Linked DNA regions of Homo sapiens: region 1 is linked to region 2. The links come from fine-mapping of genetic effects on gene expression. A gene starts in region 2. The other region holds a variant in brackets. All regions are shown on one strand. Distances are from middle to middle. Region 1 has its middle 9.9 kb from the start of GMEB1. Region 2 holds the start of FAM76A (family with sequence similarity 76 member A).

The links.
Region 1: its variant is fine-mapped to the expression of FAM76A in CD4 T cells (Kasela 2017, PIP 0.95).

Annotation. Positions count from the first base shown.
Region 1 is chr1:28,656,223-28,661,598 of GRCh38, forward strand. No RefSeq gene overlaps it. Among named protein-coding and RNA genes, the nearest start is that of GMEB1, 9.9 kb to the right of the region's middle. The variant C/CA (reference allele first, on the strand shown) is at 2,718.
Region 2 is chr1:27,723,872-27,729,247 of GRCh38, forward strand. It overlaps FAM76A (family with sequence similarity 76 member A), which reads left to right and starts at 2,090. Exons shown (of 9, transcript NM_152660.3): 1 at 2,090-2,290; 2 at 3,601-3,665. The coding sequence starts at 2,210. RefSeq lists silencers at 1,434-2,076, 1,915-2,614.

The sequences.
Region 1 (5,376 bases), 930 kb after region 2:
ATGGGCCAGAGCAACACACCCAAATGAGGAATGCGTTGCCCCCAAAATCCAAATAGGCCCAGTAGGCACTGTGTCTGTTTCTTGGTTGTAGGAGGTGCCAAATGCAGCAATTTATCCTTCACTTTAGAAAGAATATCTCGACAGGCAAGGCCCTACACCACTGAACCCCTAGAAATTTCACTGAGGTAGAGGTTCCCTGAATTTTAGTCAGATTTACTTCCCATTCCCCGGCATGCAAATCTCTCACCAGTAAGTCCAGTGTGTTTGTTACATCTCTCTCACTGGGTCTAATCAGCATAATGATGTCATTAATGTAATGGACCAGTGTGATATCTTATGGAAGGGAAAAGTGATCAAGATCTCTGCGAACAAGATTATGACACAAAGCTGGATATACCAGCTTTGTGAGAGTTGATATACCCCTGAGGTAAGATAGTGAAAGTATATTGCCGGCCTTGCAAGCTGAAGGCGAATTGCCTCTCGTGGGCCTTGTGGACAGGAATGGAGAAAAAGGCATTTGCCAAATCAGTAGCTGCATAACAGGTACCAGGAGATGTGTTAATTTGCTCAAGCAATAAAGCCACATCTGGTTCAGCAGCTGCAACTGGAGTCACCACTTGGTTAAGCTTACAATAATCCACTGTCATTCTCCAAGATCCGCCTGCCTTCTTCTCCAAATAGGAGAGTTGAACGAGGATGTGGTGGGAACCACCACCTCTTTGTCTTTCAAGTCCTTTATGGTGACACTAATCTCTGCAAAATCTCCAGGGATGCAATATTGTTTTGTTTTGTTTTGAGACGGACTTTTGCTCTTGTTGCCCAGGCTGGAGTGCAGTGATGGAGTCTCACCTCACTGCAACCTCTGCCTCCCGGAATCAAGTGGTTCTCCTGCCTCAGCCTCCCGAATAGCTGGGATTACAGGCAACTGCCACCACGCCTGGCTAATTTTTTGTATTTTTAGTAGAGACAAGGTTTCATCATGTTGGCCAGGCTGGTCTTGAACTCCTGACCTCAGATGATCTGCCCGCCTCAGCCTCCCAAAATGCTGGACTTACAGGTGTGAACCACTGTGCCTGGCCCAATATTGTTTTTTATTTACTGTTTTTCTAGGCAGAGGCAGCTCTAATGGCTTCCATTTGGCCTTTCCCACCACAATAGCCCTCACCCTACTGCTCAGGGAGCCATTGTGAGGATTCTGCCAGCTACTAAGTATGTCTATGCCAATTATGCATTCTGGCACTGGGGAAATGACCACAGGATGAGTACAGGGACCCACTGGACCCACTGTAAGTTGGACCTGAGCTAAAACTCCAGTAATTACCTGACCTCCATAAGTCCCTACTCTAACTGGAGGACCACAGTGATGTTTTGGGTCCCCTGGAATAAATGTCAGCTAAGAGCCAGCATCCAGTACTCCCTCAAAGGTCTAATTATTCCCCTTTCCCTAATGCACAATTAACTTAGCCCAGAGGTCTCCGTGGGGAAATATGGGAGAAAGATTAGCAGTATAAATTGTCCATAGTGTAGTGGGGTCGTTCTTCAAGGGGACCTGGCCTCCCCTTCATTCAAGGAGTTCTGGGTCTGTAAACTGGCTCAAGTCTGGAAATTGCTTGAGAGACCATGATTCTCTATTTCTTTTTGATACAGAGTTTCGCTCTTGTTGCCCAGGCTGGAGTGCAAAAGCACGATCTCAGCTCACCACAACCTCCGCCTCCCAGGTTCAAGCGATTCTCCTGCCTCAGCCTCCCAAGTAGCTGGGATTACAGGCATGTGCCACCACGCCTGGCTAATTTTGTATTTTTAGCAGGGATGGGGTTTCTGCATGTTGGTCAGGCTGGTTTCGAACTCCCAACCTCAGGTGATCTGCCTGCCTTGGCCTCCCAAAGTGCTGAGATTACAGGCGTGAGCCACCACGCCTGGCCGAGTCTCTGTTTTATAATTCAAATTAGTCTTTTGTCCACTCAACCTGGAAATTTTCTGTTTATACAAATTAAGAATGCAGTAGGTGCTGGGCATGGTGGCTCACACCTGTAATCTCAGCACTTTGGGAGGCCAAGGCAGCAGATCATATGAGGTAAGGAGTTTGAAACCAGTCTCTACTACTGGCAACATGGCAAAATGCTGTCTCTACAAAAATAAAAAAAAAATTGGGCCAGGGACAGTGGCTCAGGCCTGTAATCCCAGCACCTTGGGAGGTCAAGGCAGGTGGATCACCTGAGGTCAGGAGTTTGAGACCAGCCTGGCCAACATGCGAAACCTGGTCTCTACTAAAAATTTACAAAAATTAGCCAGGTGGGCTGGGTGCAATGGCTCATGCCTATAACCCCAGCATCTTGGGAGGCCGAGGCAGGTGGATCACCTGAGGTCAGGAGTTCAAGACCAGCCTGGCCGATATGGCGAAACCCCGCCTCTACTAAAACTACAAAAAATTAGCCGGGCATGGTGGCTGGCACCTATAATCCCAACTATTCGGGAGGCTGAGACAGGAGAATCGCTTGAACCCGGGAGGTGTAGGTTGCAGTGAGCCAAGATTGTGCCATTGTACTCCAGCCTGGGTGACAACAACAAAACTCCATCTCAAAAAAAAAAAAAAAAAAATTGGGCTGGGCATAGTGGCTCATGCCTGTAATCACAGCACTTTGAGAGGCTGAGGCGGGTGAATCACTTGAGGCCAGGAGTTCAAGACCAGCCTGGCTGACAAGAACAAAACTCCATCT[C/CA]AAAAAAAAAAAAAAAAAATTGGGCTGGGCCTAGTGGCTCATGCCTGTAATCACAGCACTTTGGGAGGCTGAGGCGGGTGAATCACTTGAGGCCAGGAGTTCAAGACCAGCCTGGACAACATGGTAAAACCCCGTCTCTACAAAAAATGCAAAAGCTAGCTGGACATGGTGGCATGGGCCTGTAGTCCCAGCCTGTAAAAACCTTTGTTGAACCTGGGAGGCAGAGGTTGCAGTGAGCCGAGATTGCGCCACTGCACTCCAGCCTGGGCGATAGAGCAAGACTCCCTCTCAAAAAAAAAAAAAAGAAAAAAAATTAACTGGACTTGGTGGCACATGCCTGTAATCCCAGCTACTCGGGAGGCTGAGGCGGGAGAATTACTTGAACCCAGAAGGGGGAGGATGCAGTAACCTGAGATCATACCACTGCACTCCAACTTGGGCAACAGAGCAAGACTCTGTCTCAAAAGAAAAAAAAAAGAATTCAGTAGGCTTTCTATCAACGAGTCAGACTATTCCGATTGCTGCTTTGCCTCTGCTGTCCATTACGGTAACTACATCTGCTTTGCCTTTGATGGTTGAGTGTTGCCACTTGGCTCCTGCCACCTTGGGATTTAATTATTCCCACTGCGTTTAAGTTTTCCAATTGAGTGAGTACAGTTCCCACTGTACGATCTGGCATACAGAGAGGAGCAATCACAGAGCTCTTCAAGGACACGGGTGCTCCCTTCAGAAATCTGTTTCACAAGGTTATACCCTATGGTGAAGGATAGGTCTTCTGGACCCTCCCAGTGGGGATGAGTAGGTCTAAAGTGACTAATCCACTCTAGCGTTCCAATTTCCCTAAGCCTTTGGATCCCTTCCTCTACATTAAACCAAGGGAGATTGGAATGCTACTAAAAATACAAAAAGGTGGGCTTGGTGATGTGCGCCTGTAATTCCAGCTACTAGGGAAGCTGAGGCACGAGAATCTCTTGAACCTGGGAGGCAGAGGCTACAGTGAGCGGAGGTCACATCACTGCACTCCAGCCTGGGCGACAGAATGAAGACCCTCTCAAAAAAACCAAAAAAGGCCGGGCATGGTGGCTCACGCCCGTAATCCCAGCACTTTGGGAGGCCGAGGCAGGCGGATCACGAGGTCAGGAGTTCAAGACCAGACTAACCAACATGGTGAAACCCCGTCTCTACTAGAAATACAAAAATTAGCTGGGTGTGGTGGCGCGTGCCTGTAATCCCAGCTACTCAGGAGGCTGAGGCAGAACTGCTTGAACCCAGAAGGCGGAGGTTGCAACTGAGCAACACAGTGAAACTCTGTCACAAAAAAAAAAAAAAAAAAAAAAAATTAGCTGGGCGTGGTGGTGTGCACCTATAGTCCCCACTACTTGGGAGGCTGAGGCAGGAGAAATGCGGGAACCTGGGAGGCAGAGATTGTAGTGAGCTGACAGTGCGTCACTGCACTCCAGCCTGGGCAACAGAGTGAGACTTTTTTTTGTCTCAAAAAAAAGACAAAAAGGAAAAAAATCGACACAGGGCAGGGTGCGGTGGCTCACACCTGTAATCCCTGCACTTTGGGAGGCCGAGGTGGGTATATCACCTGAGGTCAGGAGTTCGAGACGAGCCTGGCCAACATGAGGATACCCTGAATCTACTAAAAATACAAAAAATTAGCTGGGCGTGGTGGTGCACGCCTGTAATCTCAGCTACTCAGGAGGCTGAGGCAGAAGAATCATTTGAACCCAGGAGGTGGAGGTTGTAGTGAGCTGAGATCGTGCCACTGCACTCTGGCCTGGGCAACAAGAGGAAAACTCCATCTCAAAAATAAATAAATAAATAAACAAAGAAACACAGAATAAACATGTGATCCAGCAATTCCTCTTCGGGGTATAGACGCAAAATAATTGAAACCAGGAACTTGAACAGATATTCGTACACCCTCGTTCATAGCATCATAGCAGCATTACTCACAATAGCCAAAAAGTATAAACAATTCAAATGTCCATCAAAGGATAAATGGATACACCAAATCAATGGATGTCTATACAATGGAAATATTATTTGGTCATAAAAAGGAATGAAGTACTGAAACATGCCATAGCATGAATTAACTTTGAACACATTATGCCAGGTTAAATAAACCAGACTCAAAAGGACAAATATTGTACAATACTACTTATAGGAAGCACTTAGCACAGTCAAATTCTGGCTAGGCACAGTGGCTCATGCCTGTAATCCCAGCACTCTGGGAGGCCGACGCGGGTAGATCACTTGAGGTCATGAGCTTGAGACCAGCCTGGACAACATGGCGAAACAACGCCTCTACTAAAAATACAAAAATTTGCTGGGTGTGGTGGTGCACGCCAGCAGTCCTACTACTCTGGAGTAGCTATTCTGGAGGCTGAAATGGGAGAATTGCTTGAACCTGGGAGGCGGAGGTTGCAGTGAGCCAAGATTGCACCACTGCACTGTGGCCTGGGTGACAGAGCGAGACTCTGTCTCAAAAAAAATGTTAAAATGGTAAACTTTATGTAATGTCTATTTTATCACAATAAAAAATTAAAAGTTAATTTAAAAATGAAATAATTTAAAAGGAAAGATATTGAAGAGTAAGATTTTGGGTGTGCCTGTGATATCCCTGACACTGAGCTGGGAGGTGGTCACTGGC
Region 2 (5,376 bases):
AAAAAAAAAAAAAAAGTATATTCACCATGTTGAACAACCGTTACCTCTATCTAGTTCCAAAACATTTTCATCACTCCAAAAGCCCCTTACCCATTAAACAATTTCCCCACATTTTCCTCCACGTACTGTTTTTATTTGTATTTGCATATATATTTTGAGACAGGGTCTCACTCTGTCACCTAGGCTGGAGTGCAGTGGCATAATCATGGCTCAGGGCAGCCTCGACTGTCCAGGCTCAAGGGATCCTCCCGCCTCAGCCGCCTGAGTAGCTGGAACCACAGGCTCGTGCCACCACACCCGGCTAATTTTTAAAAAAGTTTTTTTGTAGAAATGGGGTCCCACTGTGTTGCACAGGCTGGTCTTTTTTTTTTTTTTTTTGAGACGGAGTCTTGCCCCGTAGTCCAGGCTGGAATTCAGTGGCATGATCTTGGCTCACTGCAACCTCTGCCTCCCAGGTTCAAGCAATTCTCTTGTCTCAGCCTCCCGAGTAGCTGGGACTACAGGCGCCTGCCACCACGCCCGGGTAATTTTTGTATTTTAGTAGAGACAGGGTTTGACCTTGTTGGTCAGGCTGGTCTGGAACTCCTGACCTCAGGTGATCCTCGGGTGATTCACCCGCCTCGGCCTCCCAAAGTGCTGGGATTACAGGCGTGAGCCACCGCGTCCGGCCGACCCAGGCTGGTCTTAAATCCCAAGGCTCAAGTGATCCTCTGGCCTCAGCCTCCCAAAGTGCTGGGATTACAGTTGTGAGCCATCCCGCCCCGACTCATGTACTGGTTTTGATTCTCACAATGACCTCATTGTACAATTGAGAAAAACGAGGCCGTGAGAAGTTCAGTGATAGATCCAAGGTCATGTAGTTAGTTGTGGAACAGTGATTTGGAAACTTTGCTTTCTGATCCTAATGATTAATGCACATCTTTGGGGGATCCTACAAGGAAGCAGCCAGATTTGGGTTCAGAGAGAGTAAATTTTTTTTGTTGAGGCAGGGAAATAGAAGCCATTAAGTCAGTTTTTAATTGTAAAAAGCGCACGTTGAGGTAAAACTGCAATTAGTCCTGTACGGGTGGTTGGCAGAGCCAAGAGTAACCTATGCCCAAGAGCAGCTACAAGGCAGGACTTGGATAGGTCAGCAGTGCAGGAAGCTTTGCCAACACCTCAAGAACAAGAAGTCTGTCATTCCTTGGGCAGCTCCTATACATGCCAAGCTGGAGCCAAAGAGAGGCAGGGGAGCCCGGAGGGCGTGGCTTGCCTTCCGGAAGTCAGGCCTCGTCAGGAATCACCAGGTGGTTGCTTGCGAGAGAAGCTGGGGGTGAAACCGGAGAAAACAAAGTAGGAAGCAGGTCTGGGCCAATTGCAGCCCACTCTGATGGGGGCCTGCAGGCCACCGGACGCCTGAATATCTGTCCAATCCCTCCTGGAAGGACTGCCATCTCTTTAGTCCCTCTTCCGCAGCATAGGGGTGCTCTCTCTGGGGCTCTCCTTTTCTCTCCTAAGGCCCACAGCCCCACAGTTCCCTATTTAGGTGTCTTAAATTGAGGACACACTTCTAAATTGTCCCTCAGAGTCTCGTCTCCTCCTTTGAGCGAGGCTGGGCGGGCTCCTCCTGCTCCGATTATGAGGAACTTCTTTCCCAAGCTCCCCACCTTCTTTGGGCTTGGACGGCTGCAGAGTTCCAGTTAACTGTGCGCCGCCTTCGTTCCAATTGTACCCCTCGTGCTCCCAGAGGGCAGCTCCATGGAAACCAAAACATCACAAATCCCCGAAGGTATCGCGAGAAGCGCAGATGCGCCTGAGGCCGTGGAGAGGCGGAGCGAGGGCGGGAACGCTGAGCAAGTAGGGCGGAGCCTAAGCTCTTCCGAGGTCCCGGCCGGGAGCCTGTCCCCTCCAGGTGGCGCCCCCGCGTGACTGCGCTTTACATAATCGCGGCCTGGAGCGTCACAGTGGCGTACTCCAGGCCAGACCGAATCAGAGTGGGCGAAAGCTCCGTGTTCCGCCCCTTCCCACTTGATCGACGTCAAAGCCCACCAGTGAGCGGGCGTCTAGAGTCGCCGTGCCCGCCCCAGCCCGCCCGGGTCCGCCCCGACCCGCCTGCGCCCGCCCGCCTGCCGCAGCCAGCAGCCTGCAGCCGCCGCCGGGTTGTGCCTCAGACTGTCAGATAAATCGGCGGGCCGGGCCGGCGGGTCGGTGAGCGCGGCCCGGGCCGGACATGGCGGCGCTCTACGCCTGCACCAAGTGCCACCAGCGCTTCCCCTTCGAGGCGCTGTCTCAGGGGCAGCAGCTGTGCAAGGTGCGCGGGCTGGGGCGGCGGCCGGGAACTGGGGACGCAGGAGGCGCGGCCCGGAGCTCCAGATTCTGTGGGGACGCCCGGCGGGGTCCCCGGAGCAGGGTGTGGCAGGCCCGCCAGGCTGAGGAGCCGCACCCACCCCGCTGGGGGCCGGCGGGGCACGTGCGGGAGCCGGGACCCGGTCCAGGCTCCCGCGGCCGGCGTGTCCGGGTGCTTAGCAACCGTGGGGATTGTTCTCGGACCCCGTGAGGTCGGGGGAGGGACAGCGGGTCCCCTGCTTGCCCTGACTGGTCGCCTTCGGGATCCCTTTGCGCTGCCTCCCCCGCCGCCGCGGTCTCCCTGGTGGGGACCTCCTGCCCCTCCTGGGACTGAACTCCAAAGTTGGGTGCTGCCTTGGAGGAATGTGTCGAACTCGGGCTCCTCACGGGCACTTTTCGACCAGTTTCAGAATCGGAGGTAGCAAGGCTTGATTTTTTTTTTTTTTTTAAGCATCTCACTTTTCGGCCAGTCTCAGAATCGGAGGCAGCAAGGCTTTATGTTTTAAAAAAGCCCCACAGTCAGGCTCACAGATCCGAGGGATCACTTCTCAGCATCCAGTTGGTGGTCTTCGGTCTTCCCTGACTAGCTGCTGATCAGTTTTTGCTCCTGAAGGTCCAACTTCTCTTTTTCTTTTAAGTTGCTTTATCCCACTTTTACTTTTTAAGTGACTAGAGGTGCTGTGAGGCAACAGTTAAAAAGTCACCAAACTGGCTGAAGAATAATGTTGAGGTTATCCAATAATCCAGTTTGTGTCTCTGATTTGGATAACTCATAATTGTCACTTTTGCCTCAGATGGTCATGACTTTCCATTTGCCAGTTTTTATATACCAGGTCTGGGGGAATGCAAGTGCTTGAGTGCCCTTTTTGGCCTCAAAATATGTATATATGATTTTAAGGAAGTTATGTATATATAAATAATAATTTTAATCCAGCACTTTCATTTCACAAGTAAACCGCAAAATCACACAGTGGCAGAAGAACCAGGCCTGGAATTCAGGGCTTCTGATTCCCAGTCTGGGACTTGTTCATATATATGTTTGTTTTACAATTTATGGCTAGTTCCATATAATCCATATAAGTTCTTACTTAACTCCCACATCAACAGTAGGGAAGTGATGCCAGTATTACAGAGGAGAAAAATAAGGCCCAGAAAGTTTAAGTGACTCACTCAAGCATAGTAGCTATGCTAGAAATAGTACCCAGGTCGGCTTCCTACTGAAGGCTGTTTCCATTTGTGACTGCCTTTTAAAATTATATCCTCATTTCATTTCAGGAATGTCGGATTGCACACCCTGTTGTGAAGTGCACCTACTGCAGGACTGAGTACCAGCAGGAGAGGTAGAGTTTTGTTGACCATGAAAGATATTAATAGGCTTTTTTCCTCTTAAAATCTGTAATTGATTGCATTTCATGTACAGATGCTATAATCAGTTGCATTGTAAAATACAGATCTGTAATCAATCACATTATATACAGACTATAATTGCTAAATATTTAGGTCTATGATCCATCTTGAGTTAATTCATGTGTGGGGTGAGATATACAATGAAGGGTATATAATACATGTATTGTTTCCTAGTTATTATCCATTGATTGCTTAAATTTTTTTTTTTTTTTTTTTTTTTTTGAGATGGAGTCTCACTCTGTCACCCAGGCTGGAATGAAGTGGTATGATCTCAGCTCACTGCAACCCTTCCCTCCCAGGTTCAAGCGATTCTTATGCCTCAGCCTCCCAAGTAGCTGAGATTACAGGTGCCTGCCACCATGTCCGGCTAGTTTTTTTGTATTTTTAGTAGACGGGGTTTCACCATCTTGGCCAGGTTGGTCTTGAACTCCTGACCTCGTGATCCACCCGCCTCAGCCTCACAAAGTGCTGGGATTACAGGCGTGAGCCACCACGCCCAGCCTGCTTAAATTTTTAAAGTTCTTTTTAAGACCCTTGATCATTTTATATTGTGATTATAATCTTTTTGTCAAGAAGAAACCAATCCCACAACAGTAAAACATGAGCCTCATGTTTCAATATGTACATACACAGAGATTGAAGAATTTATAAGCCCAAAGAAGATACTTTTGGAAATGTGACAATCCTGATAAGAGTTTGCTAGCTCTAGTCACATTTGAAACTCACTTGCCATTACACTTTCCTTGGGCAAATCTCTTTTTTTGTTTGAAACAGAGTCTCTCTCTCCCAGTCAGGTTGGGGTGCAGTGGAGCCGTCATGGCTCACTGCAGCCTGGACCTCCCGGGCCCAAGTGATCCTCCCACCTCAGCCTACCAAGTAACTGGGACCACAGGTGTGTGCCACCACGCCCAGCTAATTTTTTTATTTTTGTAGAGATAAGATTTTGCCATGTTACCCAGGCTGGTCTCTTACTCATGGGCCCAAGTGATTCCTTCCTCGTTAGCCTCTCAAGATGTTGGAATTACAGGCGTGAGCCACCACGCCTGGGCAAATCTCATTTTTAAAAGTGTGAAATGGGCTGGGTACGGTGGCTCATGCCTGTAAACCCAACACTTTGGGAGGCTGAGGCAGGTGTATCACCTGAGGTCAGAAGTTCGAGACCAGCCTGGCTAACATGACGAAACCCAGTCTCTACTAAAAATACAAAAAAATTACCTGGGTGTGGTGGCACACACCTGTAGTCCCAGCTACTTGGGGGGCTGAGGCAGGAGAATTGCTTGAACCCAGGAGGTGGAGGTTGCGGTGAGCTGAGATTGCGCCACTGCACTCCAGCCTGGGTGACGGGGGGAAACTCTGTCTCAAAAAAAAAAAAAAGTGTGAAATGCAGGTATGAGTGGTCAGACATCTTTAGGGGGCATTTCCATAGCAACAAAGTGATTTTTTTTTGGTACCAAGTTTGATTCTTGTGGAACTTCTGTGAGTGTAGGTGATCCTGCCTTGAGGAGAGTGGGATCTATTTGTTAATTCATCCATTAGACCTAGAAGCCTATTTTTAATTATTCATTTCAATTCTTAGAATATCTTCTCCAAGATTTTATCATGGATTTTTTTTTTTCTTTTATGAGACAGGGTCTCTCTCTGTCA